2 linked regions of the Homo sapiens genome follow. The protein of the gene in region 1 purifies or fractionates together with the protein of each later gene. This does not show direct contact. Each region holds a gene or a part of one and is shown in the gene's direction. Other genes may lie near its edges.

Region 1 (4,852 bases):
ATAAAGTACACTTGGAGGAGGGCCAAGTGGGCAACTTGAGAGATCCAAGTGCCCAGTTTAACCTATTACTTGGGGCTTATTTGTTGGCAGGCTTCTGGAGTCTTGCGTCTCTTCTCCCCTGATTCTTCCCTTGGGGTGGGCTGTCTGCATGTGCAGTGGCCTGCCAGCCCTTGGGATGGGCTGCACACACACTGTGTTTACTGAAGTTGTGTACATGCTCATTGGAGACATTTTTCCCTTGCCAGACAAGTCTTCCTAGAGGAAGGTCACATACCCGTTGAAGTCCGCCATTTTGCCTCTTGGTATGCATGCTCAAGCCTGCTTGCCCAGCTCCTGAGAGTTTGTCAGGAGTCTGCTAACCACCAGCTTCAGGTGTGTTTTCTATCTATTAGGAGACTGACTTTCCCTGATGCTGGCTGCAAACAATTATTATTCTAGAGAGACTGTTTTTTTGTTTTTGTTTGTTTGTTTTTGAGACAGAGTCTAGCCCTGTTGCCCAGGCTGGAGTGCAATGGCATGATCTTGGCTCACTGCAACCTCTGCCTCCTGGGTTCAAGCAATTCTCCTGCCTCAGCTTCCCCAGTAGCTGGGATTACAGGCACCTGCCATCACGCCCGGCTAATTTTTGTATTTTTAGTAGAGACAGGGTTTCACCATGCTGGCCAGACTAGTCTCAAACTCCCGACCTCAAGTGATCCACCTATCTCAGCCTCCCGAAGTGCTGGAATTACAGGCGTGAGCCATGGCCCCCGGCTTAGAGAGACTGTTTAACAACTGCCTGATCATCACCTGATGGTCACCTGATATTCCTGGTTGGGGGGCCCCTCTCCTGTCCTGCTCATGTCTGCCTAAGTACCTACTCTAACACTTGGGGGCAGGCAGTTATATAAATTTATATATTTTTGTGATGATAGCTGTTGTTAAGGGAAAAAGGACAACTTTCATCTTGCGTGTGGTAGGTTCTGCGAGCCAAGCTCTCGCACTCATGCACGGGGTCCTGTGTGCCTCTGATCACTTTTGAATACCACGCCTGACTGTGCTGATCACTGCTTCCATGAACTCTGGAGTTGGCTAGGAGGTGGAAAGAGCCTTGATCTGGATTCAGGCATAGGAATAAGCAGGGAACCCCACTTAGGCCTTAAGACCAGGCCACTTTTGCTTCGACCTAGCTTGGCACTGCCCCAGGGTATTATTTTTATTCCCATTATTTTAGTCTGTTTAAATTGCTGTAACAAAGTACCAGAATGGGTGACTTATAAACAACAGACACTTACTTTTCACAGTTCTGGAAGGTAGAAGTCTAAGATCAGGGTGGTAGTGTTGGGTTCTGGCGAAGGCCCTCTTCTGGTTTGCGGATGCCTCCTTCTTGTATTTTCATATGGCAGAATGACAGCCTGAGGCTCTCTGGGGTCTTTTTTATAAAGGTACTAATCTGACTCATAAAGGCTCTATTCTTATGACCTAATTACTTCACAATTTTCTCCTGCTAATACCATCACCTTGGGGGTTAGGATTTCAACATAAGAATTTCACAGGGCACAAACATTCAAGCTATAACATCCATTGAAATATTGCTCCTTGTGTGAGTAGCTCTTTAAGGAAGCTGGAGAGGAAGAATTGGGAAATTTCCGGGTCTTTCAGCCAAATACAGTTAATGTCATAAAAACACCACCTTGACTTTTAACATGAACATTAATGTCTGCATCATCTTCCTTGCTCAGGGTCTTCATGAACACTAATAGGGGTACCAGGCCCTCTTCCTCGTTAGAAGAAATCAGGATAACAAAGGCATATTGGGCACCCCTACAAAAGGGTAAGTCCAAGGAAGGCTCCAAAACCCAGATAAGTTTGCACATCTAAATTGGGGAACTTTTGTAACCGAGGGTTGTTTGTAGCAGCTAAATTATTTAGGTTCTCTGTGCTCATTGAGATATGGGAGGGGATATGTGAAGAGGAATTTGGTGCTTTGCTGATACTAATGCCCTGCTTGTCTAATGGTTCTAGGGGATTTTGAATAAGTTCCTTGTGAGAACTGGGTAGCTGTGTAATCACGGCTGAAAGGGTCTCTGGAGGTGAGGACTGCACACTCTAGAGTTCATCCCAACACAGCTCCCTCTGTTCTCATACGCCACTGGAATGCTGACCACAAAATGGTGTCTTAGCTAGAGCAGTTTGAATACTGGTACAATAGGCATAACCTAGAACAGTGCCTACCACTGCATGGAGAATAAATACATATTTGATGAATGAATGAAAAAAGTATTCTGAATAAGAGAGAGGAGGAAACAACTCCCTTTCTCAAAACCTCCCAGTGTTCTCCACCCTCTCATCATTTTTGGAATAGAATCCCAACTCCTTGCAATGATCAACAAAGCCTGAGTGATCTTGGCCCTAACTCCTCTCATCTTCCCTAACTCCTTACTAACATTGACCTTCCCGTTCCTTCTCAGACAAGCCAAGCTCAATTCCATCTCAGGTCCTTTATACTTGCCTTTTCTTTTGCCAGAAATGCTGTAGGTTACCCAGATCTTCCCATAGGTTACTCATTCACTTCATTTTGATTTCTACTCTAGTGTCATCATCTCAAAAAGGCCTTCTCTAACTAATCACTCAAAAATAGCCACCCCCAAGCACTGTCTCATACCTACAATTTACCCTGCTTTATTTTTCTCTACAGAACTTATCACTACAGGAACTTGAGTTTAGTCATTCATTTATTTTCTGTCTCCCCACTAGATAAAAACTCCTTGAGAATTCGGACTTTATCTTGTTCACTGCTCTATCTCCAGTTCTTAAAACATGGCCAGTAGGTGATCAATAAATACTGGTTGAATAAATAAATGGATGAATAAATGGATCTTCTGAGAGGCCTTTTATCAGGATCTAATTACCTTTTGAGTAAGACCAAAGTTAGACCCAAACCGTGTATAGGTCATAAAGGGTAATAGAAGAGCAGTCCCAATACCACCATTAGGAACACCTCTTGAGAAAGTCATGGGGAGATGTACGTCAAAGAGTGAAAGTACACCAGTTGAGTCTTAGCTGGAGTTCTAAATAATTTTGGGAAGCTTGGGGCCAGAAAACTTTCTATGAACCCACCTGTATTAGTTTCCTGAGGCTGCTGTAACAGATGATCATAAACGTGGTGGCTTTGCCCTCAACGTTCTGGAGAGCAGAAGTCGAAACTCAAGGTGTCAGCAGGGCCACCATCACTCCAGAGCCTCCTCTAGCTTCTGGCGCCTGTTGATGTTCCTTGCCTTGTAGCTGCTGCACTCCAGTCTCTGCCTCCACTGTCACAAGGCCTTCTCCTCTGTGTCTCAATTGCCTCTTCTCTTGTCTCTTTGTCAAATATCCCTCTGCCTTTCTCTTAAAAAAGCACTTGTCATTGGATTTATGGACCACCTGGATAATTTGGGATGATCTCCTCATCTCAAGATCCTTAACTTTATTATCTCTGCAAAGACCCCTTTTCTAAGGAAGGTAACATTCATGGTTTCTGGGGATTAGGACATGGTTAAGATGTAGACATATCTTTTGGTGAGCCACCATTCAACCTATTACACCATCCATATTAAAACTTATTTGATTAGAGCTGGCATCATTATTTACCAATATATATACTTCTCTAGTTTTAGGCCATGTAACCCAAAAGAATGTAGCCTCCACTTTATAAGTCTGTAACAAAAAAAAGTTTAATGTCAGCCATGACTAATTTCGTGTATTTTAAAAATGTATGTAATGTATTTCATCATTTCATTATTTTTTTTCTAGAATCTGTATCTGTATCAAGATGATCTGAAGAACAGCTTCTACCTTTAGGAATGTCTAGTGTTCCAAAATGACTAGCATCTTCCATTTTGCCATTATCTTCATGTTAATACTTCAGATCAGAATACAATTATCTGAAGAAAGTGAATTTTTAGTTGATAGGTCAAAAAACGGTCTCATCCACGTTCCTAAAGACCTATCCCAGAAAACAACAATCTTAAATATATCGCAAAATTATATATCTGAGCTTTGGACTTCTGACATCTTATCACTGTCAAAACTGAGGATTTTGATAATTTCTCATAATAGAATCCAGTATCTTGATATCAGTGTTTTCAAATTCAACCAGGAATTGGAATACTTGGATTTGTCCCACAACAAGTTGGTGAAGATTTCTTGCCACCCTACTGTGAACCTCAAGCACTTGGACCTGTCATTTAATGCATTTGATGCCCTGCCTATATGCAAAGAGTTTGGCAATATGTCTCAACTAAAATTTCTGGGGTTGAGCACCACACACTTAGAAAAATCTAGTGTGCTGCCAATTGCTCATTTGAATATCAGCAAGGTCTTGCTGGTCTTAGGAGAGACTTATGGGGAAAAAGAAGACCCTGAGGGCCTTCAAGACTTTAACACTGAGAGTCTGCACATTGTGTTCCCCACAAACAAAGAATTCCATTTTATTTTGGATGTGTCAGTCAAGACTGTAGCAAATCTGGAACTATCTAATATCAAATGTGTGCTAGAAGATAACAAATGTTCTTACTTCCTAAGTATTCTGGCGAAACTTCAAACAAATCCAAAGTTATCAAATCTTACCTTAAACAACATTGAAACAACTTGGAATTCTTTCATTAGGATCCTCCAGCTGGTTTGGCATACAACTGTATGGTATTTCTCAATTTCAAACGTGAAGCTACAGGGTCAGCTGGACTTCAGAGATTTTGATTATTCTGGCACTTCCTTGAAGGCCTTGTCTATACACCAAGTTGTCAGCGATGTGTTCGGTTTTCCGCAAAGTTATATCTATGAAATCTTTTCGAATATGAACATCAAAAATTTCACAGTGTCTGGTACACGCATG
Region 2 (5,334 bases), on another chromosome or scaffold:
TGGGTAGCTCTGACCAGACTTGCCCTCTGGGGCCCTGTCCTTTGACCACGCTGTCTCTATCCCTTCTGAGGCTAAGGCTTCCTCACACTGCAAGATCCAGCCGAGGCAGGCCTTGGCGCTGGGAAAGCACCGTGTCACAGCACCTGCACCTTGAATTGGCATCGTCAGTACACCTGACCCGGGCTGGGGTGGGGCCATGCCTCTGTACTCCTCTGCACTCAGGTACCTGGCACACTGGCATTCGGGAAGCATGTCTTGAATGCCTATTAAAATGATTAGGACCGGGCGTGGTGGCTCACGCTTGTAATCCCAACACTTTGAGAAGGCAAGGTGGGAAGATTGCTTGAGGCCAGGAGTTTGAGACCAGCCTGGGCAGCATAGTGAGACTTTGTCTCTACCAGACATAAAAAGTAAATAAAAATAAAATGATTAAACATGCACAACTCCACCTCGAGCTGGATCTCTCCTTAGGTCTAAAGACACTTGCTGAGAACCTGATGTGTGCCTGGCCTTCCAAGGCACACCTGTCACTGGCTTGGAACTCAGACCAATCAAAATGCCTGTGCTGCTGACAGCTGAGCTCTCTTCCTCTGGTTCTCCTCCTGTGTCCTGGGGGTGTTTTTCCAGACCTGCTGTGGGGAGAACCTTTGGGCTCAGATGATAAAGATCCTGAATTAGCAGAGTCCTGTGCCAGCTCCAGCCCCTGCCTTTGGGTGGACCGGACTAGGCTGGGGAAAGAAAGATGTCTGGCTATGAAAGGGTGGCTGGCCAAGGTTGAGGCTCAGCCTGCCCCTGCTCAGGCTCCGAGCAGCAGGCTCAGCAGCCACAGTTAGGCACGTTTGCACTTCCAACCATCACAGGCAGGCGGGCCAACCGGCCCATGGTGTGGTGACTAACACCTCATTAATGGTCATACCCCTTCTGTACCTGGCATGTGCCCTCCATTGTGTGCCTCCGGCAAAGAGCCCACTATCAAGTTCCCCAGTCAGCAGCTACTTGGTAGTCACTGTGGCATGTCGGTCACCATTAATATTTGAAAGATGCCTGTGCTCTGCTTCAGGCTGAGGCAGGCACCCCTTACCTTCCTGTTATGTGAAGATGCCTGCAGGAAAGGTCACACCTAGGGTGGGTGGACTAGTAATGCTCCCTGTTGTTATTTGGCCTTCAAAATTAAATTTGTCTTGGGCCCAAGTGGTTTGCGATTTCTCTGAGTCTCTGCCTGTTTTCTTCTCTGTTCCCTCCTTCCCAGGGTACACTGGACATAGTGTGAGACGCTTGGGTGCAGAAGTCACGGTGTGGTAGCAGGGCTGGGTGGATAAGCCAGCACCACGATGGTGGGTGTGCTGGGCAAGGGTGAGGACAGATGTGGACAGGAGGCGTGGAGCTCTGTGACGCCTTGGCCCTGCCCCAGAGGTCCCATGGAGGCCTGTGAAGGAGGGGCGATTGGACTGAGCAGAAAGCGAAAGGGGACAGGTGTCTCCTGCCACTCTGAACAGTGACATTCCCACAGTGTAGTGTGGGGACTGCAGTTGGCACTGTGTGGCCAGGGCTCCGGAAGCTGTTGTCCGAGGGGCAGGGAGGGGCTGGGTCCTGAAGGGCGGGGGACACCAGGAGAGGGTTTCGGGTGGAGAACGGTGACCGGGTGAAGCCCTGAGTGGGCAGGAGGCTGGGAGTGGGAGCTGAATTGCGCTGGAGTCACATGGAGTGTGAATGTTGTGACTGTACCGGAGACACCTGGGAAGCAGCTGGAGGGACAGGTCTGGACCTCAAAGAAGGATTCTAGGCTCAGGAGAGGGTGGGCTCCATTGGAGAGACAGGCACGGGCGGTGGAGGAGCAGCCGCGGAGAGGTGAGGGGATGCCTGGCAGGGAGGCAGGCGGGATGAGGCCCAAGGCAGCTGGGAGATCTGGCGGCCAGCGCGGCCAGCGGCGGGAGGGCCGGAAGCTGGGTGTCATCTGCTCTTGCCAGCCACTTGGCTCAGAAGGAAAACGGAGAAGAGGTGGAGCTGGAGTGGAGCCTCAGGCCCTGTGGTTTGCTGTGTTTGGGGCCTGCTGTCACAGCACTGGGAGCCTTGGAGAGAGATGGGGAGCTGGGATCCCCAGGAGGTGAGAGCCAGGACTGAGGGGGGGCCTTGGTCTGTGGTGGGAATGCAGAGAGCTGGGAAGCTCACGCCTGACAAGCCCCCTTTCTTGGGGTAGAGTGGGTGGGACGGGGCAGCTGTGAGCTGGAGAGGAGAGGGTGTCGGTGAGGAGTGCTGCGAAGGATGCCAGGTGGCACCGGGGGCTGGGCCACTGGAAACCGCTGAGCAGGCGGCAGGACTTCTCCCTCTCCCCTCGGCCGTTCTCGTGCCTCGGGCTCACTTCCTCGTGCAGTTTATCCATATGGCTGAGACAGGAGCGTGGGGTTGGCGGGCGGGAGTTGGGGCTTGGCAAGACGGTCCAGGCTGAGCTGGCAAGAGAGAAAAGCCAGAGTGGCTGGTGGATGCGGGGAGTCACAGCTCCGAGTGGGAGGAGGGCGCTGAGGGCTCTAGGAGAGGGTATGGGCAGGTGTATGAATGTGCAGCCTCTGGAGTGGGTAGAGTGGTTTTCTGGAATGCCCGGGGACTGGATAAAAAGGTAGAGATGTAAAGGCTTTTAAAGTTCTAGAGGCCACGGAGCTTTCCAGCCAGGACGGTGAACTTGGCCCTCAAGGGAGGGCAGCACAGAGAGGAAGGCCCTGAGCTGGAGAGAGAGGAGGCGGGTGGTGATGGGGAGAGCCCGGCTGCTGCTCGGCCCAGAGGAGGAAGGGTACGTTCGGGAGAGGATGAAGACTTGGGAGTGGTGTGTTTGCTGTAGACAATTTCCAGAGCAAGAAGGCAGGCTGGGAGCAGGGGCCGGGGGTAAAAGGCAGATAGCAAGGTAAGGAGGTGTGGGGGAAGACCAGCGGCTGTGCTCACCGTGGTTAGTGACACTGTCACCATCCAGCCCCGGTCAGACATGGTCCTATAGCTGAGGGTCTCACCAGGCAGTGGGGGCACAGGTCAGGGGAATGGGATCGCCAGAGGAGCATTCTCAAAATGTGCCTGTGCAGGCATCTCCCACCCCTGACATTCTGCATGGGAGGACCAGGGGGTGGCCACCCTACATGCAGCAGACCCCTGGTGGTCATTCTCCTCTCAGCCTCCCGTCCTCCCCTCCCCACCTCACCACCCCCAGTGGATGTTTCTGATGGCTGTGGCCTCTGCACATGCCCTCCAGGCTGCCACACCACAGATCTTTCTGGAATAAAAGCTTGATCTCACCTCTCCACCCCAGTACTCTGGTGGTGCCCTGTCACTATCGGGATGGAGTGGTGAGCAGGCCTTGTTACCCAGTTCCCCACCCCCACTGCTTAGAGCAAGTCTTGTATTTCCCTGCTGCTGAGTGCAGATCCTCCCCCTGCCACCCCAACGCCCAGTCTGCCCTGCCAACCCCAGCACGCTGTAACCGCCTTCTAGAAGGGCTTCCGGAACCCATCCAGCTCCCTGGGGCATGCGACCACCCCGGGGCCTCTCTGCTTCTACACATGTCTACAAAGCCACTTTCTGACCTCACTGTCAGGTGACCGATTTCTCTCTCAGCTCTTCCTAGCTCAGTGCCAGGCACCTAGGAGGCACTCAGGAGAAGGTTCCAGAAAGAACGGGTACACCTGAGTGCACAGACAAGTCCAGTGGCTCTCTTCCGTCGTGGTCCACTGTGCCAGCTCCATTGTTCCAGGGCTGAGGCCTAGGGCGGTGGGGCTATATGGCAGGAGGAGTGTCTGCACTTTGGGCCTCTGCCTGGGATTTATTTGTGTCTCTGAGGCATCCAGCAGACTCTTGGAGGACAGGATGAGGTGTTCCCTGGCCTTTCCCAGCACGTAGGTGGGAGGCCTGGGCCCCTCATGAAGAAATCAGACTTGGCGTGGACTTGCAAGGAAGGTCCCCCAGCCGGAGGAGGCGTCATCCCCTCCCTGGGGCTGAATGCTGGGGCCACCTCTCCCCTCATGCCTGCCATCCACACCCCGCTCCAGGTCTGCTTTTAGGCCCCAGTCCCTGCCCCATCTAGTGTGTTCTTCCAGCCTCCCTCCACCTACTCTCCCAGCACCTCTGTGATGTTGTGAAATATCTATTTGGTCTTTGTCCTTGTTTAGTGACATACAACTCCTGAAATCCTCAGAATCTCCGTGGTGCTCTTTCTGTGCGCTGGTGTTGACTGATAGCTTCCGGGTGGCGCTGGTCACTGGAAAGACCAAGGCAGGATTAGCGGGTTAGAACTTTCAGCCCCACCCCCAACCGCGGGGAGGGGAGAGGTCCAGAGGTGGAAGGTCAAGTTGATTGCCAGTGGGGTAATCAGTTATGCCTACTTAACAAGGGCTCCATGTCAACCCTAGAAGACAGGACTTGGAGAGCTTCTGGACAGCTGAATAGGAGGGAGTGCCTGGAGGGCAGCACCGTGTCCCTCTCCCGTACCTCACCCTAAAGGTCTCTTCATCTGTGTCCTTTGTAACAACCTTTATAATAAACTAGTGAATGTAAGTGTTTCCCTGAGTTCTGTGAGCTGCTCCAGCAAATTCATTGAACCCAAAGCAGGGGTTGTGGGAACCCCAACTTGAAGTTGGTTGCTGAGAAGTTCCAGAGGCCTGGACTTCTGACTGGTGTCTGGAGACGTGGGGGGCTTGTGGGATCTGAGCTATCTCCAGGTAGATGTCTCCCGGTGTCGGGATTGAATTGGAGGACACCCTGCGGGCGCCCGCTGCAGAATGGATTGCTTGCTGCCGGGAGAAACCCCCGCATCTTCTGGGTCGCAGATCCTGTGCCGATTGCGGTGCTGGCGTCAGAGCAGAGGAAAACGTGGTATGAGAGTTTTTCCAAAGAGTCCAGACACGCTTCCAGGCCCTCTCAGCCACCCCCACACCGTCCCTACCATTCCCACCTGGCCCGCTGCTGCCTGTGCCCCAGGGTTTCCGGGCACTCCGAGCTTCCCTGGCAGGCAACAAAGCTCTCATCCCTGGATCTTGCGGATCTCGCGCCCGGGCTGGAATGCCTGTGCTGCCCTCCCCTGCCTGGCGGGTGGGGTCGGTGCTCAGGAGCGGGTGGGGCCTGCCGGTCTCCCTAGCCCACCACCAGGTTTCCTCTGTATCCCCGCAGCACTTGGCAAGGTCCAGGGGCTTCCGTGGGGAGCGAGATTGTTTTGGATCCCGCCAGGGGAGCCCACTGAGAGGAGCCTGCATCTCCTATCACGTGAAGCCCGCAGGGGCCACAGCACCTCCTTCCTGTGGTCCCTAGCTGCGGGCGTTGGCGTTCCCCACCCATGGGGCCCGGCCTCATTTCCTCTTC

The links. The genes of interacting proteins can lie anywhere in the genome.
Region 2: the proteins of TLR1 (region 1) and TBC1D24 purify together in Homo sapiens (affinity purification with mass spectrometry, with the first as the bait; one large-scale study listed by BioGRID). This does not show direct contact.

What each region holds. Positions count from the first base shown.
Region 1 is NC_000004.12:38,797,818-38,802,669, reverse strand, and holds part of TLR1 (toll-like receptor 1 precursor), read left to right. Parts: intron 1-1,721; 5' UTR 1,722-1,813; intron 1,814-3,771; 5' UTR 3,772-3,838; coding exon 3,839-4,852. UniProt on the Homo sapiens protein: Participates in the innate immune response to microbial agents. Specifically recognizes diacylated and triacylated lipopeptides. Cooperates with TLR2 to mediate the innate immune response to bacterial lipoproteins or lipopeptides.
Region 2 is NC_000016.10:2,480,983-2,486,316, forward strand, and holds part of TBC1D24 (TBC1 domain family member 24), read left to right. Parts: intron 1-2,036; exon of another isoform or gene 2,037-2,104; intron 2,105-5,334. UniProt on the Homo sapiens protein: May act as a GTPase-activating protein for Rab family protein(s). Involved in neuronal projections development, probably through a negative modulation of ARF6 function. Involved in the regulation of synaptic vesicle trafficking.